Linked DNA regions of Homo sapiens. The protein of the gene in region 1 interacts with the protein of each later gene in a biochemical or structural test. Each region holds a gene or a part of one and is shown in the gene's direction. Other genes may lie near its edges.

Region 1 (10,077 bases):
TAATTAAGGAGAAATTACAAGTTATTTGCTTTAACAGGCAAACTACTGGCCAGGTGCAGTGGCTCACACCTGTAATCCCAGCACTTTGGGAGGCCGAGGTGGGTGGATCACTTGAGGTCAGGAGTTCGGGACCAGCCTGGCCAACATGGTGAAACCCCGTTTCTACTAAAAATACAAAAATTAGCTGGGCATGGGGGTGGGCACCTGTAATCCCAGCTACTTGGGAGGCTGAGGCAGGAGAATCACTTGAACCCAGGAAGCGGAGTTTGCAGAGAGCCAAGATCAAGCCACTGCACTCCAGCCTGGGCAACAGAGCAAGATTCCATCTCAAAAAAAAAAAAAAAGGGAACTATTACTTATAATAGTTGGTCATTAATGACAAAACCGCAATTACTTTTGCACCATTAAAAAAAAAAAAAATGACAAAAACCGCAATTACTTTTGCACCAACCTAATTTGCACCAACACTTTCTGAGGCTGTCCTGGAAGAACCTGTCTTTGCCTGAGTTCTAAAGCAGAAAAACATGGGTGAACCAGGTTCACCACTCCTTAGTTACATAACTTGGGGCCAGTGCCTTAACCACTCTGTGCATCAATTTCCTCACCCATGAAATGAGAATCACAGGGTGACAAGAATGAATGTACCTAAAGTGTCCCAACCCAGAAATGGGCCTAGGGCAGATCCACAATGCCATTGTCACTAATGCACAGGGGCTGTAGGAGCACAGAGAAGGGGTGCCTAACCCAGCCACGGGGCAAGGAAGGCTTCCTGGAGGAGGTGATCTTGGAGTATAAGTGGGGGGACAGTCACATGTTAATAAATCATGTCCCCCACACACTCACAAAGCACTTTGCATTGTGCCTTAGCAGAGAGCAAATAGCTCAATAACTCACTGTTTTTTATTAGTTACAAAAGTGAGCTGGGACTACAAGGAGGAGGTCAAAGATGATTAAATAAACTATTATATGATGAAAAATCATGATACTGATTGGAAAGGGCTCTAATGCATGGGAGAAAACTTCAGAGCTGCCTCTACTGGATTGTTCCCCTCCTCCATGCTCAGGGCTTCTTGGGACCTGCCCTGACTGAGGCCTGGGAGCTTTCACTTCCCCTTGTCCACTCCACCCCATCAGAGGCTACTGGAGTCAAGCCGACAGGCTTCCTTTTTTTTTTTTTTTTTTTTTTTTGAGACAGAGTGTCAAAAGTGGCACGATCTCAGCCCACTGCAGCCTCCACCTCCTGGTTTCAGGCGATTCTCCTGCCACAGCCTCCCGAGTAGCTGGGATTACAGGTGCACGCCACCATGCCCAGCTGAACCACAGGCCATTTTCACAAAAGGCTTTAGAATGGCCAAAGTTGTAAAAGAATCAAATAAAGACAGGATCAATAAAAGTGCTTTGCTGAGCTACACTGAAGTCTGAAGTAAGTGGAAGAATCAGTGACACAATACTGATGCCAATTTTACTTAAAAATTTGATACTTTGGCCAGGTGTGGTGGCTCATGCCGGTAATCCCAAAGCTTTGGGAGGCCAAGGTCGGGGGATTGAGTGCCTCCAGGAGTTTGAAACCAGCCTGGGCAACATAGCAACACCCAGTTTCTGGCAAAAATAAAGTCAGCCAGGCGTGGTGGTGTACACCTGTAGTCTCAGGTACTCCGGAGGCAGAGGCAGGAGGATGGCTTGAGCCCAGAGTTCAAGGCTGAAGTGAGCTAGGATTGCACCACTACACCCAGTCCTGGGTGACAGAATGAGACCTTGGCTCTTAAAAAATTTTTGTAAATATTTTGACCAGGTGCAGTGGCTCACACCTGTAATCCCAGCATTTTGGGAGGCCGAGGCAGGCAGATCACTGATTTCAGGAATTTGAGACCAGCCTGGCCAACATGGTGAAACCCCATCTCTACTAAAAATACAAAAATTAGCCGGTCATGGTGGTGGGGGTCTGTAATCCCAGCTACTCGGGAGGCTGAGGCAGGAGAACTGCTTGAACCCAAGAGGCAGAGATTGTGCCACACTGCACTCCAGCCTGGGCAACAGAGCAAGACTCTGTCTCAATTAAAAAAAAAAAAAAAAAGCAAATTTTAAAAATATTTTATTCATCATGGATTTGGCATTAATTTTGATTTTCTAAAATATTGCATTAAAATACTATTTATCTTAATCATTGAGTTTTTGGGGGCACCCTCTTACATTTTGCACCCTCACGCTGGTCCCAGCCTGATTCCTGAGGCTTTTCTTAGGGACCGTTCCTGGCTCTACGGTAATGGGACAAGACAGAGAGATGGACCCATTATGATAAGGCAGACTGACACTTGCTGTGTGTTTAAGGGTAGGGTGAGGGCTACGAGATCCTGGAAATGACACTGCTTAAGGGGCAGGGAAAGCTTTTTGGAGGTGATTTCTAGCAAGAGTTAGTTGTGGGGAAGAAAAGGGCTCTCAGCTCTAAGAGGAAGTGAGAAGGGGTGGAGACTGCCTCCAAAAAAGTTGGGGTGAGTGGAAAAGCAGGCCGGCCAGAGCAGGGGGATTAGGATTGGGGGCCACGGACGGGTACCAGGATCAGATCTAGGTAGGAATTTCTTGGTGAAGAGGCCATTGCATTTGTATAGGCAGTAGTTCTCAGACTGTCGTCCCCAGACAGAAGCATCAGCATTGCCTGTGAATTTGTTAGACGTGCAAATTTTCCAGCCCTACAGCAAACCTTGTGAATTCGAAACTCTGGGAGGTGGGGTCTAGCAATCTGTATTTTCTCCAGGGGATTCTCAAACTCTCAAATTTGAAAACTAATGTAAGAGAGACATAAAAGAAAAATAAATCATAATGAAACAACATGCATTACAATGTGGAAATGCTCAGCCACTACTCCCTTAGAGGACACAGGGGCATCTCAGAAGCATGGGCCTGCCAATAATCAATGTGCTTGGATTTGAGAAATAAAATATTCTCTACTCAACTGAATTTTGTCCACAATTTTCCCTTATATTTGACATTTAAGTACCTATGACTGTCTGTCTACCTAGAGTGCAGCTACAGTTGTGGGCACCTTGTGTGGGATGCTCTAATATTAGCAGAGGCGTTGCCATCCATTACCTCCTTTTCCCTAAGGATGGATGAACAACTCTTGACAAAACTCTCAAGCAAAACAAAGTGTATTTTCCCTTCCTTTCCCTCCCCTCCCCTCCTCTCCCCTCCCCTCCCCTCCCCTCCCCTCCTCTCCCCTCCCCTCCTCTCCCCTCCCCTCCTCTCCCCTCCTCTCCCCTCCCCTCCCCTCCCCTCCTCTCCCCTCCCCTCCTCTCCCCTCCCCTCCTCTCCCCTCCTCTCCCCTCCTCTCCCCTCCCCTCCCCTCCCTTCCCTTCTCTCTTTCTCTCTGTCTTGCTGTGTCACACAGGCTGGAGTGCAGTGGCACGATCTCAGATTGCTGCAACCTCTGCCTCCCGGGTTCAAGTGATTCTCCTGCCTCAGCCTCCTGAGTAGCTGAGATTATAGGTGCCCGCCACCATGCCTGGCTAATTTTTTGTATTTTTAGGAGAGACAGGGTTTCAACATAGTCACCTTTCTGAAAATTCAGTAAAAAATACCAGGCTAGCCATGGTGGCTTCTGTCTGTAATCCCAGCACTTTGGAAGGCGGAAGCAGGAGGATTGCCTGGGCAACATAGTTAAACTTTTTTTTTAAAGGAGCTGGGTGTGGTGGTGTGTACCCGTTGTACTCAGGAGACTGAAGCAGGAGGATGATTTGAGCCTGGGAGATGGAGGCTGCAGTGAGCTATGATTGTGACATTGCACTTCAGCCTGGGTGACGGGAGTGAGACCCTGTTTCAGAAAAAAAGTGAGAGAAAGAGAGGAAGGAAGGAAGGAAGGCAGGAAGGAAGGAAGGAAGGAAGGAAGGAAGGAAGGAAGACTAGTGTTGATGCATGAAATGGAGTTAGGTTCTGGCTTCAAATTACTATAAATGGGTTTTTCACCCAGGAAACATTTTGTGGGAATGGAGCAATTCTTGTTGGGGAGACTGTCCAGTGCATTGGAAGACATTTAGCATCCAAGGCTCTTGCACTCTAAATGCCAGGAGCTCTCCCCCTCCATCAGCAAGACAACCACAAACATTCCCACAAATCCCCTCTTAGAAACGCTCCGTAGAAGCTACAGTGCCCCCCACTAGAATCACCTTTGAGATGAATCGTGCTGAGACCCTGTGAATAACATGGAGGAGGTCACAGCCCCAGGACAGAGGGAGGGACGGGGAAGAATCCAGGAGGCTGCGTGGGTTTCCTGTTGGGCAGTAAGACAAATTTGCTAAGCTGCGGGGCAGGCTGGGACCACTGCGTTTGCGAGTGCTTGTGCAACATGCAGAGGTTGGGGGTGGGAGCCGGGAGATGAGATTTTGGCTAAAAGAAAAGTTTCCTACTACTAAGTCAAGCCAGAATTGCCTTCTTGGTATCTTATTCCATGTTCCCCTCTCCATCCCCATAACTGGTCACCTCTCCCCGGGACAACAGCAGCAGCCTCCTCCCTGGTCTCCCTCAGCCCTCTGCCCCGTGGTCCCTCATCCACGCAGCAGCCGGAGCGATCTTTCCAGAGAGGATGGAGACTCCAGCCATTCCTCCCCTCTTCCCTTCCCTGAGTGCTGGCCTCCGGTTGACAAACTTCTTCCTGCTTCAGGGCACGCTGATCCCCCCTGCTTGGAGAGCTGTCTCTCTGTTCTTTCACCTGTTAATCCTGCTTATGCTCAAGCCCAAGCCTCAGAATAAAGCTCTTCTGGGAAGCCTTCCCTGACCTCCAAGGAGTTGGCTGGGTTTCAGAACACCCAGAAAGAATTCATTGAAAAAGATTAGCAAAATACTTTTTTAAAAACGTGCCTAATAACTTGATTAACCTCTGCAAAATCAGGCGAATCTATTTTGCTTACTGTTTTTGTTTTTTGTTTTTTGTTTTTTTGAGACCGAGTCTCGCTCTGTCGCCCAGGCTGGAGTGCAGTGGCGCGATCTCAGCTCATTGCAACCTCCGCCTCCCAGATTCAAGCGATTCTCTTGCCTCAGCCTCCCGAGTAGCTGGGACTACAGGCGCGCACCACTGCGCCCAGCTAATTTTTGTCTTTTTAGTAGAGACGGGGTTTCACCATGTTGGCCAGGATGGTCTCGATCTCTTGACCTCGTAATCCGCCCGCCTCAGCCTCCCAAAGTGCTGGGATTACAGGCGTGAGCCACCGCGCCCGGCCCCAGGACGTCTTTTATTTCCTGGTCGCTGTACAGTCCTGTCTGCACGGTCGCCGGGCCTCAGTTTCCCCAGGCAGAGCAGCGGGCAGGGCCCCTGGGGCGTACGGGCTCCGGGCGGCGCGCGCGCCCCCGAGTCCCAGGCCTGATAGCGGGGCGCGCGGGCGGGGGCGCGTGTGTCGGGCGCGCGAGGGACGTGATCGACCAGCCGAGGCCTCGGGCAGCCCTCAGGGCCCCCGCGCACGCGCGCCTCCTCGTCCCGCCCTGCCCGCTTCCCCGCCCACTCCGCGCACTGAGGCCTGCGCGCGCCGGCGCGGGAGGCGGGAGCTGGGGGCGGGGGCGGTGGCGACGCCGAGGGGGAGGGGCGGGCCCGGCCCGGCTCGGCCCGGCCGCCCGCGCGCGGCTCCAGGAGGCCCCGGGCCCGGCCCGGGCGGCGGTGGCGGTGGCGGCTCTAGCTCGAGACGTCTGTGGCGCCCTCGCACCGCGCCGCAGCCATGGCCCTGGTGACCCTGCAGCGCTCGCCCACGCCCAGCGCCGCCTCCTCCTCGGCCAGCAACAGCGAGGTGAGCCCCGGGCTCGCCGCGCCCGGCCTGGGCCGCCGGACGCCGCGCCGAGGCCGCCGGAGCTGGGGCCGCGCGTGCGGGGCAGGGGGGCGGCTGCGCGGGCTCCTCGGGGCCCCGCCGTAGGAACAGAGCCGGGCAGCCGGACCGGGGTGACCGTGCGAGGACTGTGTGCGATGTGACCCTGTCTTGGGGAGCTGTGCGGGGACTTTGTGTGCGGTGTGACCCCTATCGGGGGGCGACTTTGCAGGGACTGTGTATGCAGTGCGACCCCTCTGGGAGTGTCTGCAGGATACTGTGTGTGCGCTGTGACCCACATCAGGGGGTTACCCCCATCTTGGGGTGACCCCTGTTAGGCGGAGACTGTGTGCGTTGTGACCCCTAAGGGTGACTGTGCAGAGACTGTGTGTGCAGATGTGACCTCGTGATTGTGTGGGGACTGTGATTTCAGGTGTGACCCCCATCTTGGGTTGACCTCTGTCTGGGGAGGACTGTGCGTCTGTCGGGACTCCCATTTGTGAGTGACTCTGCAGTGTGACCAGGGTCCAGGGGTGACTGGATGTGCAACTGGGACCCTTGATTGGGTGACTGCGTGAGCCGCTGGTTCTGAGACCTGTGGCCGGGGTAGTTCTAGGCCCTTTGCCTGTATGCCTGGCTGTGCGATGTGAGATGTGACTGTTGCTGACCTGCCGTCCGGGGACTGTGCCAGCGTGAGACAGGCATCTGGGAGTGCCCCTACAAACGTGTGAGATTGTTTCCCCGCCTGCCGCCTCTGGAGTTCTGTCTGTAGGCGTGCCCGTGTCACTGTGTGACGGTGACCGAGCGTGCTGTGGGCTCTGTGTGGCTGTGTTTCACGTCTGTGCGTGCAGCCTTAGTCTGGCTTTTCCTTTCTGTAACATCACTCAGGCCTGTGTGTTTATGTGCATCTATCTTTCTGTGTGGCTGTGACCCATTCTGGGTGATTGCATAGGTGCATTCCTGGGTTGCGTGTCCTGGCACTGTGCGCGTTTTTGTGGGTCTGTGTGTGGCCCAGGTCCGTTTGCCTGGCCACTTTTTCCTCTGGGGTTGATTGAGGGCACTGTTGCCCTCTTAGCCTGCAGGGTTGGCCTGGCTTGTCCTAGGCTGGGGCCTTGGGCCTCTGAGCAGGTCAGCCCTCTGTAGCTGCAGGGATGACCCTCTGGTCGCGCAATCTTGCCCACCATCTCTTGAAGAACCCGTCAAGGCCTCTGGTCTAAACTCTTACCTATAACAAGGCTGAGTGTCCGCCTGCAGACCCTTAGCTGTGTTTAGAGAAGACTGGAGGAGCGGCCCTGCGGTCCCAGGCCCAGGAAGTTCCGCAGCCAGCATCTGGGCTCTTCAGCCCCTTTCTTTGTGGGAGGGAGTGGGGGAAGTTGACTGATAACACGGGGGAGGTTTGTGTGTCTGAGAGAGACAAGAGAATAATGTTTGCATTTGGCTTGACAGCCCTGTCTCCTGGTAGGGTAGTTCTTCAGCCTTGTTTTGCTGGGATTGGCAGGGACATTTTCAGAGTGGCTGGGAAGTTGAACCTTCACAGCCCCCTCCTTGGAGAGGAGAGGCCATTCATGAGTTATCTATACACAGAAGGTTCTAGTAATCCCCCTCTACACGCTGATTAGAGGCAAAAGAACACTGGCGATCAATAGCCTGCTACTGAGAAGTTAGGTTGCAGGAGCGCCTTTCCTTCCCACAGCGAGGAGGGGCTGTTTTCTGTTCCGGTCACTGCTGTCTGGCAATTTATGCACTTAATCTCAGGTTCTCATCACAAAAGTTTATGTGAGGTAAGGGGAGAGGTTGGCTTCAGGCTGAACCTGTCAGCCCAGATTTCTGATTCAAAACCCCATGTTCCTAGAGTTACTTGCAACCTAATCTGTTCTTGTCTTACGCATTTTAAGGTCTTATTATTTTTTAGTTACATACCATAAATTTGCCATTTTAAAGTGTACAATTCAGTGGTTTTTAGTATATACATGAGATTGTGCAACCACCACCATCTAATTCCAGAACATTTTCATCCTCCCCAAAATAGGAACCCTGTACCCGTTAGCCCTCACCTGCAGCCTCCCCCTGCCCCATTCTCCCTAACCTTAGGCAACCACTAATCTACTTTCTGTATCTATGGATTTGCTTATTCTGGACATTTTATATAAATGGAATCACACCCTGTGTGGCCTTTTGTGTCTGGCTTCTTTGACTCAGCATCACGTTTTCAAAGTTCATGCATATTGTAGCATGTGGCAGTACTTCATTCCTTTTCATGGCTGTATAATACTCCATTGTATGGATGTACCACATTTTGTTGGACATTTGTGTTGTGTCTACTAGATACATTTTCAATTATTATATAAAGCATTATTTTTACCAAGTGCCAATGACCCTGATAAACATAAAGTAAAACTCAGGCAGCTTTTATTTGATCATAGCAAAGCTGCAGCATTCATTGCTTGGCTTTGAATGCGCTGGGATGTTTCCCGAAGGCAAGGCCCTCGTTCAGATGTGTTGAGGTGAGAAGCAAGGTGGGATGGAGACAGCAAGTGTGTATGGGGTCAGGAGACCTAGGCCAGGCCGGTTCTGCCCTGGTCCGCCCTCGCTTGAGTTGCTTCCTGTGTGTGGGCCCTGGCTCATCTAAAAGGACTGAATTACCTCTTTCATGTGTTCCTTGGCAGATGTAGTTTCCCTGGAATAACTGACCTGAGATGGCCTTTCATCTGAGAACCTCAGAGAGTGACCGAGAGTTAAATGATTGTGAAGTCCGTACCCCCAAGTCACGTCATCACTCTTCAAATTGCAACTTCATAATGAGTCAGACACTTAGGGCAGTGCTTTCCTGACACAGCCAGGCCTGCTGCCGGCGTGGGAAACGGGGGATCACAGCCCTCAGTCCTAAGGCTCTCTTTTCTCTTTTAATTTTCTTTTTTTCCCAGTCTTTGATTATGTCACTTATGTCATTTTCCTGTGAATCTTATCTCAGTTCCTTTGTGTGAACAGGCAGAGCACAAGAATAGATAAATCAATAATTTTCAGGAATGGATCATAACATTGTTATTTCTGAGAAACATTCAAAGTGACTAATTTTCATGGGCAGATCTCCAGGCACTTTTTTGGATTGGACCAGAGTTTCTCAACCCACTGTTGATACTTGGGACCAGAACATTCTCTCTTGTGGGGGGACCATCCTGTGTGTTGTGGGATCCTGTCCTCTACCCACTAGGTGCCAGTAGTGACCTCCAGAAAAATGCCTCCAGACATCTTCCAATGTCTCCTGTTGAGAGAACTTGCTCCGCATTGAGAACCACTGGGTTAGACCCCAACATACTCTTTGTCAATTTGTTGCTCTTGTGACTTGTTTTGTGGTCATTGAAGCCTTCCCTGCTCTTTCCACTTCTCCTTCAGTGTGGGGTAGGTGCCTCTGCAGAATCTTGTATGTACTTCATCTTAATATGATGTAGGGACTCCCAGGCCCTCTGGTGTACGCTTTTTTTTTTTTTTTGAAACGAAGTATTGCTCTTTCACCAGGCTGGAGTGCAGTGGTGCAATCTCGGCTCACTGCAACCTCCGCCTCCTGGGTTCAAGTGATTCTCCTGCCTCAGCCTCCCAGGTAGCTGGGATTACAGGTACATGTCACCGTGCCTGGCTAATTTTTGTATTTTTAGTAGAGACAGCGTGTCACCTTGTTGGCTAGGCTGGTCTCGAACTCCTGACCTCAGGTGATCCGCCCACCTCGGCCTCCTGCAGTGCTGGGATTCCAGGTGTGAGCCACTGCGCCGGGCTGGTGTACTCATTCTTGGTTGAAGTTGCCACCTCCTGGTGGGTGTCCCTTGCTGCCCAGGCCCCTCCCTACATTATCTCTGGACCCTTTTTCCTTCGCCCTTGGCTCCTGCCTCATTTCTGTCCTCGATCAGCCCTGCATCTCTCCCAGCCATCACAGCTTTCCAGGTTTCTCTTTCCCATTCAATGGGCGCCTCTGTGCAACATAAAAAACATGCCAAGTCCCAGCGGTGCGGAGTTGTTTGGGGGGTGTGTATGTGTTTCCTTCTTATTTTCAGTTTGCTCTCTGAAAGAAAAAAAATAAAAATAAGTCATAGGTACTTCTGGAGCCCAAACTCGTGGCCTTTTAGATTTCAGAAAATATTAAATATCTCTTTCTTGCATTTATATAAATAAACCGATAGCCTAGGATGTTTCGTATCAAATGTTTAAGTCTTTTCGAGAACCATCAAGAGCTTTCAAGACCCACAAACAGACGGCCTGATTCCTGGCCACCTTCCACTGTGCAAGTCTTGCCTGGGTTGGT
Region 2 (10,238 bases), on another chromosome or scaffold:
CAAGGCTGTAGTGTGCTATGATCATTCCTGTTAATAGCCACTAGGCTGCAGCCTGGGCAACATAACGAGACCCCATCTCTCATGCACCCCATCCTGCATCATGGCTGAACATTCCAGATACTTCACAGCTCCCACCTGCTTAGCCAGGGAAGGGCCTTGCTGAGGAGTCATTGGCACTTGGCTCTGCTCCTTCAGCTTCTTCACTGTCTCATGGTCACTCCACAGGTCCCTTTTGGTGCCTACCAGCATAACAGATACATTGAGGCAATGATGGGAGACCTCTGGGTACCACTTATGCCTCACATTGGCCTAAGAGGATGAGTTGCCAATGGAAAAACAAATGACAGAGATATTGGTCTTGGGGATAGGAGAACAGTCGCAGTTGGTCATATTCCTCCTCTTGGCCAGTGGTGTCCCACAGGTTCAGGCTGATGATTTGGCCATCCACAGATGTCTGGGTGCTGTAGTTGTCAAAGACATTGGGCATATACTCCTTAGGAAAGGCATTTGTTGTATAACTGATGGGGAGGCAGGCTTTGTCTACAGCCACATCTCCTGCAATCACACATTTGATTGTCTACATTCTTCCCTTAGTCTGATCATCCTCCAGTGCTGTTCAACCATGACTGGCAGAGCCTCCTGGGCATCTCTTGTTGGGCTTTATAATTCTTGCTTTAGAAAAGCTAACATGCAAAACAAAGTAGTTAATGAGGCATTAACAATTATGGATATAATAAAGTTAATGTAAATAGCACATTCCTCAAGATGAAAAAATTAAAAACTGGTTTAAGATCTTGTGCTATCAAGATTTTGTTTAACTGTCCTTCAGCCCAGAATAGCAAGTATAACATAGCGAAAGGTAATTTTTCTGGTCAGTATAATCCCTAATTAAGCTACCCTCTTTATTATAGCAGTAGACATTTTCTTATTTATTCTAATCTTAGTTTAAAATTTGGAATTTTTAAGTGAAATTTTAATGGCAAGTGTGACTAATACTGAATATTGATCACATAATTTTGAAATGTGAGTAGAGCAAAGACCTCTTAATAAATCTTTTTTTTTATTAGAGAAAGAGATGCTGTAGGGATGGAAATTTCCCAGTCTAGCAGCTATGACCAGCTACTGTGTATTACAAAAGGAATTTTAGGTATCATGAATATACACACTGGGAAGATGATCTGCCTGTAGTCAAGGCTCTAAGCAACCTGTATAAGAAGAAAATAACCCAGCACCTTAGGAAACACTTCTTTTAAGGTTCTAGGGTAGGAGAGGCTGCTATAGTTGAATGTTTCCTTACCCCTGTGCAGTAGTGAGGAATGGCATATATTTGTGATCTTTTAAAAAGTTTGATGTCTAAAATTAGTAGTGATTACAGCTCAAATTTCTAGTTTTTTAATTAGATGATATACCTTTAAAATGTTAAATATATGCCAATCTATAAGCAGAATTTATTATTTTATGTTTGGCACAATAAAAATTGTAAGTCTTTTTCTCATGTATTTTCTCATCATAGGCCTCAGGAGTGCAAGTAGCTGATGAAGTATGTCGCATTTTTTATGACATGAAAGTTCGTAAATGCTCCACACCAGAAGAAATCAAGAAAAGAAAGAAGGCTGTCATTTTTTGTCTCAGTGCAGACAAAAAGTGCATCATTGTAGAAGAAGGCAAAGAGATCTTGGTTGGAGATGTTGGTGTAACCATAACTGATCCTTTCAAGCATTTTGTGGGAATGCTTCCTGAAAAAGATTGTCGCTATGCTTTGTATGATGCAAGCTTTGAAACAAAAGAATCCAGAAAAGAAGAGTTGATGTTTTTTTTGTGGTAAGCATGTTAGAAATATTGAGCCTCTGTAAAACTCATTTTGTTAGCACTCGGGAAGACCAGTTCCAGCACCAAAGTAATTTTTATTCAAACTATTTGCAGTTGTTGTCATTTAATTTTTATTTACAGGTTTCATAATGTTACCAGGGCTGATGTTTATGGGACCCAAACTAAATTTTGACTATTTTCTATCTACTTGTTATGTGACTCTCCGTTTTTGTTTTTTTTTTCAATGGGGAAAGGACAGGAGGCATCCTCTGAATGTACTGCTTTTATAGGCTAAAATTTCCTACTACTTTTAACTTTCTTACTTATAAGCCAAAACCCTACTTTTCCAACGAGCCATGCCAGGAACCAGCCTTCTATCTACTCTTTTAAATTACACCCCTTCCTTGTGCCTCTGTGGTCTACTACTTTTGAAGAAATTGGTACCATTCCCTCCCTGCTATAATTTGCTCTACAGTTGCACTGTTTAGTAGTGTAGTCACTAGCCACATGTGGCTATTTAAATTATTTAAAATTAAAAATTCAGTTTGTTAGCTGAATGAATTACCACATTTCAAATGCTCAGTAGCCACATCTGACTAGTGGCCACCTTATTGAGTAGCACAGATACAGAACATTTCCATCATTGCAGAAAACTCTGTTGGGCAGTGTTACTCTTAGATAGTGAAACAGGGCTATAAAGTTATTTTTATGGCCTTTTTCTTGAAATGTTGTTTAGTTATTCTGGTCTTTTCAGGCAAGTCGGTATTTGAGATGAAGCTTTAGAAAAAAGTTACACCTGGATCCCTCATTTATTGAATATTATACTGCATTCCTTGATATGGCCAGGAGTAGAATTCTTTAGTTTCTAAGGGGAGGGAGAAATGGTAACACTACCTGATTTTTTTCTTTTTTTTTTTTTTAGAGGGGCAAGGATTCTCTTGATACTTTGGCCTGAGTCAGGGCAAGGCAGGGAGGGACTTAGCTTTTAGCTATGTGCCATCAATAGCTTGGAGTGTAAAAGGGATATGGGAGTAGGAGATGCAGAGGATTGTGGTTTAAAAAGGAAGATAACTCGAGGTCACACCTCACTTGTATTTCAGTAAGCTTTTACTGCACTTGATTAAACCAAGTTGCTGTGAGGAATGCAAATATGAGGTCAGGGTGCACGTATTCAGGCAGCTTAGAGTCCATTGAAGCTGGTACATAAGACTGAAAATTAACAAGGATTTGAATGAAGGTGCATTTACTGAACTTTATTTCTACTACACGCCAGCTATTGTGCGAGGGCCTGGGAAAACAGCTGTGAATAAAACAGGTTAAGTCCTTCCTCTTCTGGCATTCACAGCTGAGTGGCAGACAGGCCAGCTAATGGTTTAGGCTTTTAAATTGGTCGGTATTTCCTTAATTTGCAGGTATTTTTTCTGCTTTTTATGTATTTTGTAATTATGAAAAGTATGCATTCTTATTTTTTTAAATGTGGAAAATAATAGAAGAAAAGGAAATTTAGTGTTAGTGCAGTGGTTTATTTTGCACTGTTACACTGTTACTTAAGAAAAGGTAGAACCTTATTAAAGGCATTTTCTATAACAAGCTCCGCCCATGGCCCAGGGAGCAGCTCTTAAAGTAGTTTAACAATTTGGTTAGAATAAAAGCAGAACAGCTGATGCTTTTTTATGTTTCTGACCTATTTTCATAACAAAAGTACCCACTCTGCTGGGCGCAGTGACTCATGCCTGTAATCTCAGCACTTTGGGAGGTGGAGGTGGGCAGATCACGAGGTCAAGAGATCGAGACCATCCTGGCCAACCAACATGGTGCAACCCCATCTCTACTAAAATTAACTGGGCATAGTGGCACACGCCTGCAGTTCCAGCTACTCGGGAGGCTGAGGCAGGAGAATCGCTTGAATCTGGGAGGCAGAGGTTGCAGTGAGCTGAGATCACGCCACTGCACTCCAGCCTGGGTGACAGAGCGAGACTCCGCCTCAAAAAAATAAAAAATAAAAAGTACCCACCCTGTAGCTCAAACATCTGCCAGTCCTGAGGTTGTGATGGCTCTGCCTCCTTCCCTGGACCTTAGGATTGGGAGGAATAAGCCTCTGAGAGACAGACTGCCCTTTTTCCCAAGAATGGAATCTCTGCTCACTAGGGTAAGGGGTACACTAGGTGAGGTCCACATGCCAGTGCTCATGGCTGTTGAATGTCCTGGAAATATGGCAGCTAAATGGAATTATTAAATGCTCAGAAGTATTTAGCTATACCGTAATATCTTAATGACCTCCAGTAGGCTCTTGGAAACTACAGCTTTAAGCAAAACAACATACACCAGGTCCTCAAATAACGTCATTTCTTTCAATGTAGTTTTGTTATAACATTGAGAAAAAAAAATACTGGTTTTGGTATATGTCATTTTGTTTTAAGTCACAGGCTCCAAGAACTGATTGACAATGTTAAGTGTGGACTTACTGTACTGCATCTTCTCTGTGATATTTTAGCAGTGTGGCATGGAGGTGGGCCTATGGGTTGGCGTACAGAGGAAAGAAGGACCTCCGTGCAAGCAGTCTGAGTGGGAGGGTTTCTGTCCGTTACTAATCATCCTTATTCTTCAGTGTTGCTGCTGAAGGTGCTGTGACACATATGCTGTGCTTCTAACACGCTTCCCTTCAAGAGGGAGAACGTGCTCCAATGTTATAAATATAAAAAGATAGTAATAATATTGACAGTTAAGACATAATTATTGGTGAGTTGCCATTTAGAAATCTTTAGAATCATGAGATTATACAAGTGGATTTAATATTTTTTTCCAGAGAATTATTGAAACGTGGATGCCCAGATCTGTAATTAAACATGTATTGTTATGTTAGACTAAGAAAACAAGTACCTGTGGGATCAAAACCTGCTATTGGAATAGATGAAGGGACTGGGGAAGTCTAAGAAAAGGACTTTTATTTGTAATTTATTCTTTTTTGTCCTTTTTTTTAAGTTTTTGATTTATTCTTTTTTAGAAAACAATCTGAAGCAAAGGTGCCAAAATATTAGCATTTAATTCTGGGTCACACGTACTTACGGATTATTCTCTGTACTTTTATGTATTTTAAAACTTTTTTCCAACTAGAAAAACTGTCAAAAACCTTGTGTAAATATTAGCCTGAATCCAATCCCTTATTAATAATAATGAAAAATATTCTGAAGAAAAAGAATTGGGTTATACAGTGAAGTACTCAGTGTTGGTTCTTTCATTATGGCGACTGTAATCTGATTTTTAATTGGTGATTGTCTTTTGCCACCAGTGGTTCTCTTCTTTTTTCCCACCCTGGTCAACCTGAGTGATTCTGCATATGCCTATCTGTAGCATTTCCTCTCTGAGCTGCTGGGGAGGTAGAAAAAATGTGCAGTTAAGAAAAAATATCTCAGGAGAGTCTGAGGATTCTCAGCAAATGTTTACACAAGCAAATGTTTAACAAGTTGCAAGTTATACTTTCTCTAAACCACTTTTTTCATTTTTGGCATCTTTCTATCTAGGGCACCAGAACTAGCACCTCTGAAAAGTAAAATGATCTATGCAAGCTCCAAGGATGCAATTAAAAAGAAATTTCAAGGTATGTTCTAGATGACCTCTGAATATGTAGAGGTATGGTGAACACTCAGAATGGGGCAGCACCTTTTCTGAGAAGCACCTTATTTTTTTGCAGAGCTTCGGGCACAAGGGAGAAGTGTTACTTGTTTTGAGAAAAGCAGAAGACTGAATTTGACTTTCCATGTATCTTCTGCTTTGTGCTGGTTGCTCTGGGTCTGCCCAGCCTGTGTTTAATAACTATACCCTTGACATTGTCTATATATATCGTTTATTCAGGCTGGTTTTAAACTAGTTTGAGGTGCTACCAGTTTTCTCATGTAGGAGGTGGAGACTGATTGTTTAACATTGGACATAATAGTAAATTTGCTCTTGCCTTTGAATGTAGTTGTTATAATAAAGTTGCAAAAAGGAAATGTACCTAAATGAGAAAGGATGCTCTTTTCTCCAGCTTTACTGTTGAATGGCATGATTTTAGGTAATTAATTCATCTGTGTCCCAAGGAAAGTGCACCCACTCCTGAGCTGGTCAGTTGTATTTGACTTGCCACTGGGTGATTGGGATCCTGATGAGATGGCCTGGCCAGACTTCAGCCAGGAGAAAATGTTGGTATGATGGAAAGAACGTGCATGGGGCAAGTGCCCAAAGGCCTGCACTGAGGGCGAAGCCTGTCTAACTGCTGTGTGGCCTTGGCCAGAACTGCTTAACCTCCATGGGCCTTGATTCTCTCAGCTGTAGAAGGGGAGACTTGGTCTCATGTGTGAGTTTTAGTTTAAGAGTTTGCCCTGCCACCTTCCTGCCATGGCTGTTTCCAAACAGCTGAGTGAGCCAAGGTCACAAGGGCTTGGCCTGATGTTGATTTTGTTTTGTTTGTTTTACTGTCACTGGTTTTTATATTTTCATGGTAGAACAGGTTTGCCCTAGCCTGTTTTACTTAGTTCGGAAAAAAAAATTCTTGCTTCCTTTCCCGAGCCTTGCTGCTGCATAGTTTATTGCTGGGTCAGGTTCTTCGTGCATTTGGTTTGATGTTTGGCAACCCCCAGAAGTGTGTCACTGGGTTGCTAACTGACACTTTTAAATCCTTTAGCTTCAACACTTTCCCAGCCCAACCAAAAGGTTCACAGTGGATTCCTTATTATCTTTATTCTGCATTGCCTTTCAGTAAAGGGAATTGCTTTGCACACTTGATTTGGTGATACTAAAAGATAGTGGCCGGCTGGGTGTGGTGGCTCATGCCTGTAATCCCAGCACTTTGGGAGGCTAAGACAGGTGGATCACCTGAGGTCAGGAGTTCGAGACCAGCCTGACCAACATGGTGAAACCCTGTCTCTACTAAAAATACAAAAAAAAAATTAGCCGGGCGTGGTGGCACATGCCTGTAATCCCAGCTACTTGGGAGGCTGAAGCAGGAAGAATGCTTGAACCCAAGAGGCAGAGGTTGCAGTGAGCTGAGATCGCACCATTGCACTCCAGCCAGGGCAATAAGAGCAAAACTCTGTCTCAAAAAAAAAAAAAAGATAGTGACCATGCTGCCTTTTTTCTAATGAAAGCATCCACTGTCTTTCTCAGATCAGTCCTGAGTAGTTCAAAAGCTGACCTGCTGTGCTTTCAGCAGCTTGAGAAATAATGGTCTTTAAATGATGGGAATAACCATGCAGCTATTTAAAAGACAGTGGCCATTTACAGAGAAGCTACTGTATGTAATCCATAATTGAGCTCGTTTTTGCATTGTGGTAGTGTAATTGTTCTAAGAAAGCAATCAGTAACATATTTCACATAGTTTTCATTGTGATCGATTTCATAAATGTGTAGTGTAATACCATTGAAGAGCCAGCTGTTTACTTTTCAATACAGTTGACAAAATCAACTGTGCAATCAAAAATCATTTGTATTTTTATGTTTTAAAAACCAAGAAAATTTTCTTACTAGACCTGCCTTTTAGCTTTTTAGCAAAGTACAACATATCTTTAGAAAAGTGTATGTCACAAATTATTGTAGAATGTGTTGAATTTTTCAGAGTGAACATAATGGTTATTTCTTAATCTAATGACCAGCACCCCAGAAGCCTCCCTGGTGCTGTTCCCTTCAATTCATAGCACTTCTGCCTGCCCCTTCCTCCTCAAAGTAGCCAGCACCCTGGCTTCTAACAGCGTAAGTTAGCGTGGGCTGATTTTGTATGCTATACCTATATATATAATAGAATATATGCATTTTAAATCTGGATTCTTTCAGTGAATGCTGTTTGTGAGGCCCATCTATCTTGATGCATGTAGTTACAATTATTTTTTCTCGTTACTGTGTAGTATTCCGTGTTTGTATATACCCCAGTTTATCCAGATTAGAACTGGTCTTTTAAAAGTTTGGTTATCTTAGAGAAAGAGGTAAACTGCTGCCATAATTGTAAATAGAAGTGTTGTTTTTTCTCTCTAGGCATAAAACATGAATGTCAAGCAAATGGACCAGAAGATCTCAATCGGGCTTGTATTGCTGAAAAGTTAGGTGGATCCTTAATTGTAGCCTTTGAAGGATGCCCTGTGTAGATTATTCAGTGCCACAAATTGAAAGCTTCCATGTTTAATGTTATCCTCTTGCTATATAAATAAAGCAAATATATTTAGGCCAGGGTCTCACTGAGGGGGAGCTGTCTTGTCATCTTTTAGAGTAAACTATTCTATAAACATATGCAAACAGCCCTAAATAAATCTAAAGTCTAAAGTTTTATTGATGTGAAATTAAATTCTTATTGGCCAAATGCCTGTTTTGATGAGTTGATTTATAAAGATTTTTGTTAAGCTCAGGATTTTAAATTACACAGTTCACAAACAGTAAAGGCCATGTGAAGAGAATTATTACATCTTTATTAACCTCAGCATTTACTTTGTTTCTTTTGCTTAGGAAATTGCTCATAATCTGGTTATAATTTTGGTCCAAATTCTTTATTCTTCCTTGAGCTAAGCAGAATAATGGAATATAATATGTCTTCATAATATAACAACACTAATACACTAATAGTAAGATTAAGTTAGGCAGTCTTCTACCAAATGTGTAATGGAGATTGCCTCAAAATTGTGTCCACATAATCCACGCTCATCTTGCAAAGCGCTATTTCAGGCACATCATTGGAATACAGGAAGTAGCCCTGCACCTGCCAGTGAGCTCGCCATTCACTGATTGGAAGAGTGACCTGGCATCTTGGAAATCATTGTGTGTCTTCAGGAGAATGTGCAGTGTCTTGTAACAACTAATTATAATGCAAATTAGGGCTACATTGTAATCTGCTTTGTTAATGAAAATGATAAAACAGAATATTGACAAGCTAGGACACCTGTGGTATCTTTAATTGTATCTCCTTCAGAAGTTTGCTTCTTATGGTATAATAAAGTATGGAAGAATATTGAGTATATGTTTACTCTGGGCCTGGGAGAACTTAACTTTCTAGAGCAGTTTGTTGACTTGTGTGCAATGGGGAGAGGTACCATGATGACACTCACAGGGAGCCACTGTTCACTGACACTTGGAAGCGGTCATTGTTAATATCACGGGCGTAACACTTTGAACGATATAGAGATGCACAAACAGTTGAACTTAGAAGTAGCAGTATTGGCTTTATGTAATAAAGGAAGCATTTTTGACTTACCTCTCGTGTAATTTTCATGTGTGAATTGGGAATACAGGATTTTGCCTTCCATATGGGGTAAGGCATTGAGGTTTGGGTATTTCCAATAATTAAGAGTTAAGGTTGGCTGAGTGTGGTGGCTCACTCCTGTAATCCCAGCATTTTGGGAGGCCGAGGCAAGAGGATAGTTTGAGGCCAGGAGTTTGACAATCAGCGTGGGCAACATAGTGGGATCTCATCTACTAAAAATAAACAAAATTAGCCGGGTGTGGTGGTGCACGTCAGTAGTCCCAGCTACTTTGGATGCTGAGGTGGGAGGATCACTTGAGCCCAGGAGGTGAGCTGAGATCGTGCCACTGTACTCCAGCCTGGATGACAGAGCAAGACCTTGTCTCAAAAAAAAAAAAAAAAGTCACAACTCCCTCTGGTGAATAAGAAAGTTGGTGTAAAAGTTGGGAACGTTTTCAATGTTTATTACACTATAAGTGTAATAAATATTATACAAAATTATAAATTCACATTTAAAATTTAGAAAATAGAGAAAAGGGAAATTATACATTGTCCTACCACATGCCATCACATGGTTAGCATTTTGATACACAGCTGTGCATTATTACATGTCAAAGACTGCATATACTATGGTGGTCCCATACAATTATAATGTATTTTCTACTGTAATTAGATACACAAATACCATTGTGTTACAGTTGCCGACAGTATTCAGTATAGTAACGTGCTGTCCAGGTTTGTGGTCTAGGAGTAATAGGCTCTACCATACAGCCTAGGTGTGTAGTAGGCTATGCCACTAGGTTTAAGTGCAGTCTAGGGTGGGGAACATTTTAATGTTGATCCACATGCCAGGTGTTTGTGAGACAAGATTATGCTTTAATCAAAATATTTTGGAATTGTCTAGAAAATAGTGCTGGCTGCTTGTCATTCATCCTGAATTGCTTGTTTCTTTACTTTGTAGCAATGCTTTTAGTGTGGGTTTTGTTTTTTGAGACAGGGTCTCACTCTTTCCCCCAGGCTAGAGTGCAGTGGTGCAATCATAACTCACTGCATCCTTGAACTCTTGGGCTCCAGCAAGCCTCCTGCCTTGGCCTCCTAAAGTGCTGTGATTACAGGTGTGAGCCACTGTGTCCTGCTAGTGATTGTGATTAACAGGCCTCCAGGGAAGTGCCATAAGCCCAAGACTGCCGTACTCAAAAGTCAGCCATGTAGGTAAAGCAAGATATTTGGT
Region 3 (10,892 bases), on another chromosome or scaffold:
CTCCCGTGGAGGGCTGCACAAGATTCTTTGTGGGGGCTGCAGGTACAGAGGGCCCCGATCCTGCCTGAATAACAGCCTCCCTCTGTCTGAGCCCAAGTGCACAGATAGGAAGTTGTCCAAGCACACAGAGCTCAGGGCACCAGTGGGTCTAGGAAGGGCAAAGGCAAAGACGGCCGGGCGCGGTGGCTCACGCCTGTAATCCCAGCACTTTGGGAGGCCGAGGCGGGCGGATCACAAGGTCAAAAGATCAAGACCATCCTGGCCAACATGGTGAAACCCCGTCTCTATTAAAAGTACAAAAATTAGCTGGGCGTAGCGGCGCACACCTGTAATCCCAGCTACTCGGGAGGCTGAGGCAGGAGAATTGCTTGAACCCGGGAGGCAGAGGTTGCAGTGAGCCGGGATTGTACCACTGCACTCCAGCCTGGCGACAGAGCAAGACTCCATCTCAAAAAAAAAAAAAAAAATTAGAAAGGGCAAAGGCTCCCAGAGGTCACACAGCTTCTCTAGGGCAGAACCAGCTCTTCCCTCTCAAGCTGCTGATGCTGCAGAAAAAACTAGAAGTGCTGAAGGTCTATCTTCCAACCCCCACTCCACTTCCCTTTTCCTACCCATCGTCCTCTCCTGGCACCCACCCCACCTGCGTTCTCCTTACCCCCAGTGTTCCAGTCATGCCCCCTTATCCCATTAGCTCAGTATCGTGACCTTCAGCAACTGAGACGCCCTTTCCGGCAGGTGTAAATGACAATGATGTCAGATGTGCAACCCTTCCCAGAGACACCTGCATTTTCCAAATGCAGCAGGCTGTGCAGGCAGCCTAGAGTGATACAGTCAGGTCTGGGTTCTGGTTCCTAACTTCCTTCCTCTCAGCCTGTTTTCTCCTCTGTAAAATGGAGTGATCATGTTCCCCTTGCAGGCTTGGCAGTTCTGATCATTGACTGAGCCCAGGGATGGGAAGTGCTGTGGGCGGTGGTGGTGGTGATACCAGAAGCATAGTCGTAGTGATGGAATTGCGGGCACTGAGGCCCATGGGAGAGAGATTTCTGGCCAGGCATGCATTTATTGAATTCATTCATCCAGTATTTCTTGGGCACTCGCTAGATGCCTTTCTGGCCAGCCTTCCATTCTGGAGCCACTTGGGTGAGGTTAAGGGTTTGCCCTCTTGGCTGGGCGCAGTGGCTTACGCCTGTAATCCCAGCACTTTGGGACCCTGAGGCAGGCAGATCACAAGGTCAGGAGATCGAGACCATCCTGGCTAACATGGTGAAACCCTGTCTCTACTAAAAATACAAAAAAAAAAAAAATTAGCTGGGCGTGGTGGTGGGCACCTGTAGTTCCAGCTACTCGGGAGGCTGAGGCAGGAGAATGGCGTGAACCTGGGAGGCGGAGCTTGCAGTGAGCCGAGATCGCACCACTGCACTCCAGCCTGGGCACACAGAAAGACTCTGTCTCTAAAAAAAAAAAAAAAAAAAAAAAAAAAAAGAGTGCACTCTCTGGTGACCATCAGGGGTTGTTTGAATCCTGGCTCCACCACTCACAGGCTGTGTGACCTTCCACAAAGCTCTTAGCCTCTTTGGGACTCAGTTTCCTCGTCTGTAAAATGAGGATCATAATAATGGTACCCATCTTGCAGGAGCGTGAATCCCTATGAAGTGTTCGTGATTGTTAGCCATTAATTTGATGACAGCAGTGGGCACCCCCCGGTCTCACTCAGCCCTGGGACCAATACTGAGCCACAGGCCAGCGCCTGAGTGGCAGATCGCCTGCCCCCCAGGCCTCCCCACCATGGCACTGCCTCCTGTTCCACAAGGGAAGTTCTCACCCTCCCCATCCCACTGCAGTCCACACTCTGAGCGCAGGGCCTGGACTTCGGTCCCCATTAGGGCACTCCGCAGTGCCCTTCTCCCTTTTTCTGGGCAGGGCTCCCAGGGCCTTTTCAGCATGGCAGGCAGATTGGGAAATAAAACCTCAGCATCAGCCACTTGCTTTCAGCTCTGGTCCACACTCCAAACCCTACCTCTTGGGGAGTGGGCCAGTCCCACGTCCAAGGACCCCAAAGGGAATCCCACCCATAATGCGTGATTTCTGTCCAGAAGAAAGAGCAGCAGACCATCACCCTTGGTCAGCCAGAGCAGCGGATGCTCAAGAAAGGAATAAGTGAGGTAGCTGGTACCCCAAAGCCGCCAGCCTGAGGGAGGCGGGGCAGACTCCACCTGTGGGACAGGATGGGGTAGAATGCCTGAAGGGTTTTGCGGAATAAAGAGGAGTTCTCAGGCCAGGCACGGTGGCTCACGCCTGTGATCCCAGCACTTTAGGAAGCCAAGGCAGGCAGATCAACTGAGGTCAGGAGTTCAAGGCCAGCCTGGCCAACATGGTGAAACCTCATCTATACAAATACAAAAAATTTGCCGGGTGTGGTGGCGCATGCCTGTAATCCCAGCTACTCGGGAGGCTGAGGCAGGAGAATTGCTTGAACCCAGGAAGCGCGGGTTGTGTAAACCCCCGAGGGGTTCGCCTTGCCTGCTGCCTAGACAGAGCCAATTCACGCAGAGCCGGCTGTGCAGGAGACTGCAGTTTTATTCTTACTCAAATCAGACTCCCTGAGCATTCTCAGGGAGCTGAGTTTTTAAGGATAACTTGGTGGGTGGTGGGAAGCCAGTGAGCCAGCGGTGCTGATTGGTCAAGGATGAAATCAGAGGGAATCAAAGCTGTCATCTTGCACTGAGTCAGTTCCTGGGTGGGGGCCACAAGATCAGATGAGCCAGTTGATTGATCTGGTGGTGCCAGCTGATCCATCAAGGGCAGGGTCTGCAAATATCTCAAGCGCTGACCTTAGGAGCAGTTTAGGGAGGGTCCGAATCTTATAGCCTCCAGCTGCATAACTCCTAAACCATAATTTCTTTTTTGTTTGTTTGTTTGTTTTGTTTTTTTGAGACAGAGTTTTGCTCTTGTTGCCCCAGGCTGGAATGCAATGGCGTGATCTCAGCTCACCACAACCTCCGCCTCCCGGGTTCAAGCGATTCTCCTACCTCAGCCTCCCGAGTAGCTGGGATTACAGGCATGTGCTACCACACCCAGCTAATTTTGCATTTTTTAGTAGAGACGGTGTTTCACCATGTTGGCCAGGGTGATCTCGAACTCCCGACCTCAGGTGGTCCGCCCGCCTCGGCCTCCCAAAGTGCTGGGATTACAGGCGTGAGCCACCATGCCCGGCCCTAAACCATAATTTCTAATCTTGTGGCTAATGTTAGTCCTACAAAGGCAATCTAGTCCCCAGGCAACAGGGAAGTCTGCTTTGGGAAAGGGCTGTTACCATCTTTGTTTATAAACTAAGTTTCTCCCAAAGTTAGTTCAGCCTATGCCCAGAAATGAACAAGGACGGTTTAGAGATTAGAAGCAAGGGCCAGATGAGGTGGCTCATGCCTGTAATCCCAGCACTTTGGGAGGCCGAGATGGGCTGATCACAAGATCAGGAGATTGAGACCATCCTGGCTAACACAGTGAAACCCTGTCTCTATTAAAAATACAAAAAAAATTAGCCAGGTGAGGTGGTGGGCGCCTGTATTCCCAAATACTCGGGAGGCTGAGGCAGGAGAATGGCGTGAACCCAGCAGGCGGAGCTTGCAGTGAGCCGAGATCGCACCACTGCACTCCAGCCTGGGCGACAGAGCGAGACTCTGTCTCAAAAAAAAAAAAAAAAAAAGAGAGAGATTAGAAGCAAGATGGTTGGTGAAGTTAGATCTCTTTCACTGTCTCAGTCATAGTTTTGCAAAGGTGGTTTCCGTTGCAGTAAGCCGAGATCGCGTCACTGCACTCCAGCCTGTACAACAGAGCAAGACTCTGTCTCCAAAAAAAAAAAAAAAAGAGTTCTCTCAGTGGTCCATGGAGGAGGGTTTTGTGTTAGAGAAAATGGGCATGAAGGTGGGCTCAGCCCCAAGACATTGCCCAGCCACACACCTCCTGCCTACCACATCCCAGGGGACCAGTCTCCTGCTGCCGTCTGGAAGACTCACTCCTTCTCCGGTGAGAGATGCCCTTCCTTCCCTCTCCTTCATAGGTGCCAGACATTGATCCTGAGAATTGTGATTATGAGTATTGTTCAATTCTACATTCAGGGCTGCTGCTCATTCATTCATTCCTCATACATTACTTGATCCCATACTGAGTGTTGGATCTTGTTCAGGGTGCTGGGAATACAGTAGGAAGATAGGCAAAGTCCTTCCCCTCAATTTGCTGACATCCTGGTGGAGGCCGACACAAACCAAATACACCAATAAGCACCTGATGCAACATCAGGCGGCGCTGGAGAACACAGGCCGGGTGGTGGCTCACACCTGTAATCCCAGAGTTTTGGGAGGCTGAGGCAGGAGGATTTTTTGAGGCCAGGAGTTTGGAACCAGCCTGGACAACATAGGAGACCTCCATCTCTACAAAAATAAAAATTAGCTAGGCATGGTGGTACGTGCCTGTAGTCCCAGCTACTTGGGAGGCTGAGGCGGGAGGACTGAGCCCCAGAGTGTGAGGCGGTAGTGAGCTAGGACCGTGCCACTGCACTCCAGCCTGGGCAACTGAGCAAGACCCTGTCTCCCAAAAAAAGAACAATGCAGTCAGGACAAGTAAGACCAAAGAGTGGCTGGGTGAGGAATGGTCCAGGAGAGCCCTAGGAGGAGGTGATGTCTGACCAGAGACCTGAATCGAGTGGGGAAAGGAGCCTTTTTGGGATCTGAGGAAAGAGCTTCCAGATGGAGAGAACAGGATGTGCCCAGGCCTCGGGGTGGGAAGGAAGGTGGGTGGGATCTAGATGATCCTTCTAGCCCCAGGGTTTATAGAGCACTAGGAAAAGCAAGGGCTTTGGACCCAAGCCGATGGGGATTGCATCCGGCTGGATGACCTCAGGCAGGCACCGCACCTCTCTGTGCCTGTTTCCTCAATGGGGTGTGGCAATGGGAATGAGATGGGAGACAAGCCCGAGGTCACCCTCAGACACACAGTGGGGGCCTCTTTTAGCCAGAGACAAGGCTCCTGTGACCTCTGCTCTTCCCCCGCTTCGTCCTCCATCCATCTCTTTCTGGGAAAGGGAGGGTGCCATCGGTCAGCCAGGGCAGTGGATGCTCAAGGAAAGAATAAGGGAAGTAGCCGGTGCCCCAGAGCCGCTGGCCTAAGGGAACGGGGGTACATTCCACCTGTGGAACGGGATGGGGTGGGTCTGGAGAGGCCAGTCTGGGCTCCTTGTCACAGGCGCTGGCTAGAGAAAGAGAGAGGCCTGTGAATGGATCTCCAGGCCTTCGAGGGAGATGGTGGAGAAAAGAAGGCAAGGTGCAAGGGACTCACTGGCCATGGCCCCCTTTCAAATTGTAATAAGAAAGCTCAGCAGAATGCACAGGTGTTTACCCTGAAAAATGGGACTCCTGGGTCTTCCACTCGCTCCATAAACACTGCTATTTTCTGGATGGGCACGGTGGCTCACAACTGTAATCCCAGCACTCTGGGAGGCTAAGGCAGGAGGATTGCTTGAGCCCGGGAGTTCAAGAGCAGCCTGGCCAACATGGTGAAACCCTATCTCTACTAAAAATACAAAAAAAATAGCAGGGTATGGTAGCAGGCACCTGTAATCCCAGCGAATTGGGAGGCTGAGGCAGGAGAATTGCTTGAACACGGGAGGCAGAAGTTGCAGTGAGCCGAGATCGCGCCATTGCACTATAGGCTGGGAGACAGAGCGAGACTCCATCTCAAAACAAAACAAAAAACACACCAGCCTGGGCGACAGAGCAAGAGACCCCATCTCTACAAAAAGTAAAAGAAAAATTAGCCAGGCGTGGTGGTGTGTGTCTGTAGTCCCAGCTACTTGGGAGGCTGAGGCAGGAGGATCCCTTGAGCCTAGGAGGTCGAGCCTGTAGTGAGCCATGATCATGGCACTACATTCTAGCCCGGTAGTGACAGACCTTGCCTCAAAAAAAAAAAAAAAAACCACCCCAACACCTGCTGTTGTTTTCTTTACATTGTTAACCAAGAGCATGAAATTTAGGCCGGGCATGGTGTCTCACGCCTGTAATCCCAGCACTTTGGGAGGCCGAGGCGGGCGGATCACGAGGTCGGGAAATCGAGACCATCCTGGCTAACATGGTGAAACCCCGTCTCTACTAAACATACAAAAAATTAGCCGGGCGTGGTAGTATAAGCCTGTAGTCCCAGCTACTGGGGTGAATTTCTTGAACCTGGGAGGGCGGAGGTTGCAGTGGGCCGAGATCGCGCCACTGCACTCCAGCCTGGGTGACAAAAACTCCGTCTCAAAAAAAAAAAAAAAAAAAAAAAAAGAGCATTAACTTTGATAACTTAAAAAGAGTCACGTGAACATATCCACTGTCCGTGTAGATTCTACATTTATTTGTTGGGGGCGGTAATGGGGCCCCTTGGAGGTGTGCGTTCCGTCGGGGGCCGGGAAGGCGGGGCCTCACCCAATCCTGGAGACTCCTGCGGATGCCATTATGAGGAGCAAGAACGCGAAGGGGCCTCGGGTCCGCTGTAAGGCTGCACCCGCACCTGCGGCGCCTCTGCGGCGGCCGCCGTCGGCCCTGCCCCGCCCCGCCCCCTTCTTCCGGAGGAGCTGCGGTGGGGGCGCTCCACCGGGTCCTAGGAAAGGGGCTCTCTCTGGCCCCGTCCCCGGCGGCCCCGCTCCCGGCCCCCCGGCGCCGCTCAGCCTCCCGCCCAGCCCCTCCGCGCGTGACCTCGGCCCCGCCCCCGCGAGCCCCTGCCCCGCCCCCGCTCCGGGTCCCTCTGTCACTTCCTGAATCCTGCTTCCTGCTTCCCAGAGGCCGGGATCCGGAGCCGCCCGAAGCCGGTGCCGCAGCCCCCTGCGCCCCCGGTGCCCCCGGTGAGCGCGGCAGGGCCGGGGCTAGGGGCGCGGGCTGGGGGCTGGGCGGGGCTGCAGGGGCCGGGCTGAGGGGGCTGAGGGGGGATCGCGGGTCCCAGGAGCCTTTCGCCTCCCCTCTACCCCACTCAGTCCCACTCCCCTTGGCCGCCCAGCCTCTCCTCTCCTGGGCGGAGGTCCCTGGAAGTTGGGCTCCTGGTTCACCCTGGACCCCGATTCGAGGCCGCTCTGGGTTGCTTCGCGGCCCACAGCTGCGTCCCGACCCCGTCCCTTCCTGGGGGCCATGCCGGGGCTCCCTGGACATTCCCTGGGACTCAGAACTGGGCACTCACTCGGCCCCACAGTAGAGAGACTTTTCCTGCTTCCTCTCTCCTTCTTCCCCATTACCTAGCCTCCAAATCTCTGGGAGCAGGAAGGAGGCTGCTCCCGACTGGCTGGGACCTACAGTAGAGCTGAGAGCTCTCCAACCCCGGCACCTCCCACCTCCTGCCCCCGACACACACCAGAGCCAGGGAGGGGCCCTGCGTCCTGCAAAGCCCCTCAGGACTCAGCAGTGGTCAGGGCCGGAGCATTTACCTCTCAGATCACTGCCTGCGGGGTGACAGGCGGCCAGGCTCTGCACCTGTGACCCCATTCTGTAACTGGGTAAACCGAGACCCAGGAGGGTTACGGTGGCCTGGCCCCCGGTTGCATCCTCCCGGCTCACCTTCAGCAGCCTGGGGAGGGCTGGAGTTGTTGGGATGGGCCGGACTGACCCAGGCCTCTCTGTCCCGCAGACATGTCCTTCCGCAAAGTGGTCCGGCAGAGCAAATTCCGGCATGTGTTCGGGCAGCCGGTCAAGAACGACCAGTGCTATGAGGACATTCGCGTGTCCCGTGTTACCTGGGACAGCACCTTCTGCGCCGTCAACCCCAAGTTCCTGGCGGTGATTGTGGAGGCCAGTGGAGGGGGTGCCTTTCTGGTGCTCCCCCTAAGCAAGGTGGGTCCTGTCAGGGTTGGGGGAAGAGGAGGCACCTCGGCCACCCCTACTGGGCCTTTCTGCACACCTTGAATCCCTCATCTTGCCGTTTCTCACACTGCTGGGCAGGTGTTATAACCCAGATTTATCGCCCCAAGTGTTAGCACAGATGGAAAGTAGCCTGTTGCCATAGAGGCAGGGTTAGAGGCAGCAAACATTTCCTGCTCACCTGGCAAGTGGGGCACAGTCACATCTGGGCCACCTGTGAGCCGGGACGTGCATGTCATTCCCACTCCATGGAGGGGAAGACCAAGGCTTCGGGAGGGATGGAGCCCACTGACTGCCCCCTCGTGCCCACAGACGGGCCGCATTGACAAGGCCTACCCGACGGTGTGTGGGCACACGGGACCTGTCCTGGACATCGACTGGTGTCCTCACAACGACGAAGTCATAGCCAGCGGCTCGGAGGACTGCACGGTCATGGTGAGGCACAGGACTGGCTGGGCCAGGGTCGTGGGTGTGGCCGAAGGGGGCCAGCAATAGGACCAGCAGAGGACTGAGCTCGGTGGCCCTGTCCCTACCACAGGTGTGGCAGATCCCAGAGAACGGGCTGACCTCCCCGCTGACAGAGCCGGTGGTGGTACTGGAGGGGCACACCAAGCGAGTGGGCATCATCGCCTGGCACCCCACGGCCCGAAACGTGCTGCTCAGTGCAGGTCTGCACCGCCCCCCGTTTTGTGCTCCCCCCCCCCACGGACCCCTCCATACATCCCAGCAGCCCCTCCAGGGCCCACATGACAAATGGGAAAGCTGAGGCCCTCAGAGTTGGAGAGACCCGTCTGTCCCAGGGTGGTGGGCAGAGTGGGCCTCAGCCTGGTGAGCTAATGGCCTCCTGCCACCCACCCGGCCCGAGCTGACAACCCTCACCTGCCAGGCTGCGACAACGTGGTACTCATCTGGAATGTGGGCACAGCGGAGGAGCTGTACCGCCTGGACAGCCTGCACCCTGACCTCATCTACAATGTCAGCTGGAACCACAATGGCAGCCTGTTTTGCTCAGCATGCAAGGACAAGAGCGTGCGCATCATCGACCCCCGTCGGGGCACCCTGGTGGCAGTACGTGGCTCTGGAGGGCAAGGATGGCTGTGGATAGGCCCAGGACCTTGAGCAGGGCGCTGCACTGACCAGCCTGTCCCCCCGACAGGAGCGGGAGAAGGCTCATGAGGGGGCCCGGCCCATGCGGGCCATCTTCCTGGCAGATGGCAAGGTGTTCACCACAGGCTTCAGCCGAATGAGCGAGCGGCAGCTGGCGCTCTGGGACCCAGTGAGTGGCCAGCCTGAGGGGGCAAACTTGAGACTTGGGCCCCACCCTGGGCCAGGCAGGCAGGGTTCACCCTGGGGAGGCCTGTGGTTCCTAGCTTCTCTGCCTGGAACTTGAGGCTCTCAGGGCCTAGGACTCTGTCAGACTTTCCTCTCCTGCCCCCTGCTCGCCCGACTGCCCCACCACTCCCCCATGGCCTCCCACTGCCTCTGTGTCTTTGCCCATGTTGTTCATGCCAACGGAAGGGCCCTTCTCTCCCTTGCTTGCCTGTACCACCCACTGCCTGCACAGGGCTCCCCGCTCCTCCAGAAAGCCTCCTCCTCCAGCAAGCCTCCTGGCCCCAGCCCTCTCTGCTTCTGCATAGTGACCTCCAGGGCACCTTGAGCAGGGGCTGGTGCCGCTGGCACCCCAGCTCCCCACAGTGAGGTATGTTTCAGCACTTGCTTAGTGGCCTGGGCATAGTCTTAAGGCCTGGAGGAGGCTGGAAAAGAGGGACCCTGGGAATAAAGTGAAGCCAGGAGGGCCAGGTGGGGGTCGTCATGTGGGAAAAGGCATAGAGATGGCAGAGGGCCCACCTGCATTTAGGGGCAGTGCTGGCTGGCCTTAGTGAGGCCAGCTAAGGCCCGTCCTGGTTTGGGATTAGGGGGTGAGGAGGTTCTGCTTGGCCTGACTGCCTGCAATGTGCCAGGAAAACCTCGAGGAACCCATGGCCCTGCAGGAACTGGACTCGAGCAACGGGGCCCTGCTGCCCTTCTACGACCCCGACACCAGTGTGGTCTACGTCTGCGGCAAGGTGGGGCTGGGCAGGGCTGGCGAGGGGCAGGGAAGAGGCGTGCCCAGGTGCTGAGCCCCCTCCCCACACAGGGTGACTCCAGCATCCGGTACTTTGAGATCACAGAGGAGCCTCCCTACATCCACTTCCTGAACACGTTCACCAGCAAGGAGCCGCAGCGGGGTATGGGCAGCATGCCCAAGCGGGGCCTGGAGGTCAGCAAGTGCGAGATCGCCCGGTAAGAGGGCTACCGAGGCCACTCGGGGATAGGGGCATCTAAGGTGAGAGGTCAGGTCATTGGAGGCTGCTTGGGAGCAGGAAACCTTGCGCCAGGGAGGCCCGGCGGGCCATGAGAACTGTCACGAGGCAGCCCGTGTGGGGGTCTAGCCACCTTAGGGGTCGGCCTGCGGAGGTCCTGGGGTGAGGACTGGAAGTGGAGGATGCCAGGAGAGCTGGCGGTGGGTGGGGGGGGCGGTGAGGGTTCCACCCGTGGCTCCTCCTTGCATCCCCAGGTTCTACAAACTGCATGAGCGCAAGTGTGAGCCCATCGTCATGACTGTGCCAAGAAAGGTGAGGCCGCCCGTCCCTCGGCTCACTTGGCCCTTTCTCCAGCAAGCGGGCCATGCAGTTGTGACCAGGGCGAGGCCTGTGAATGGAACATGACCTAGTATGGTTTGTGGGCAGTGAGCTGGACAGATGCCAGCTTGCCCTTGTACCAGCCAGCTGTTGGGCTGTGCCAGTCAGGGGGCAAGTGGGGATGAGACAGAGGGTGAGCAGGGGCCCTGCTCTGGATGAGCCACAGGAGAAGGACACCAGGCAGTCAGGGAGGGAGTGGCAGCCACACAGATCTTCCTGAAGGAGGCAGGACCCATAACACAGCTGGGGTGGCGCCATCCACTGGGGGCAGGCCAGGCGAAGGGCACAGTGGTGGGAATGGAGAGAGGAACAAGGAGTCTGGCTGCAGTGGGGAATC

The links.
Region 2: of the proteins of SSH1 (region 1) and DSTN, one has a biochemical effect on the other in vitro, tested with the Homo sapiens proteins (one study listed by BioGRID).
Region 3: of the proteins of SSH1 (region 1) and CORO1B, one has a biochemical effect on the other in vitro, tested with the Homo sapiens proteins (one study listed by IntAct).

What each region holds. Positions count from the first base shown.
Region 1 is NC_000012.12:108,853,119-108,863,195, reverse strand, and holds the start of SSH1 (protein phosphatase Slingshot homolog 1), read left to right. Parts: upstream 1-5,612; 5' UTR 5,613-5,699; coding exon 5,700-5,768; intron 5,769-5,901; exon of another isoform or gene 5,902-10,077. UniProt on the Homo sapiens protein: Protein phosphatase which regulates actin filament dynamics. Dephosphorylates and activates the actin binding/depolymerizing factor cofilin, which subsequently binds to actin filaments and stimulates their disassembly.
Region 2 is NC_000020.11:17,599,225-17,609,462, forward strand, and holds part of DSTN (destrin), read left to right. Parts: intron 1-1,513; coding exon 1,514-1,821; intron 1,822-5,330; coding exon 5,331-5,407; intron 5,408-7,812; coding exon 7,813-7,922; 3' UTR 7,923-10,238. UniProt on the Homo sapiens protein: Actin-depolymerizing protein. Severs actin filaments (F-actin) and binds to actin monomers (G-actin). Acts in a pH-independent manner.
Region 3 is NC_000011.10:67,439,383-67,450,274, reverse strand, and holds the start of CORO1B (coronin-1B), read left to right. Parts: upstream 1-6,798; 5' UTR 6,799-6,871; intron 6,872-7,644; 5' UTR 7,645-7,646; coding exon 7,647-7,847; intron 7,848-8,186; coding exon 8,187-8,309; intron 8,310-8,412; coding exon 8,413-8,542; intron 8,543-8,760; coding exon 8,761-8,942; intron 8,943-9,030; coding exon 9,031-9,150; intron 9,151-9,835; coding exon 9,836-9,940; intron 9,941-10,011; coding exon 10,012-10,157; intron 10,158-10,431; coding exon 10,432-10,489; intron 10,490-10,892. UniProt on the Homo sapiens protein: Regulates leading edge dynamics and cell motility in fibroblasts. May be involved in cytokinesis and signal transduction.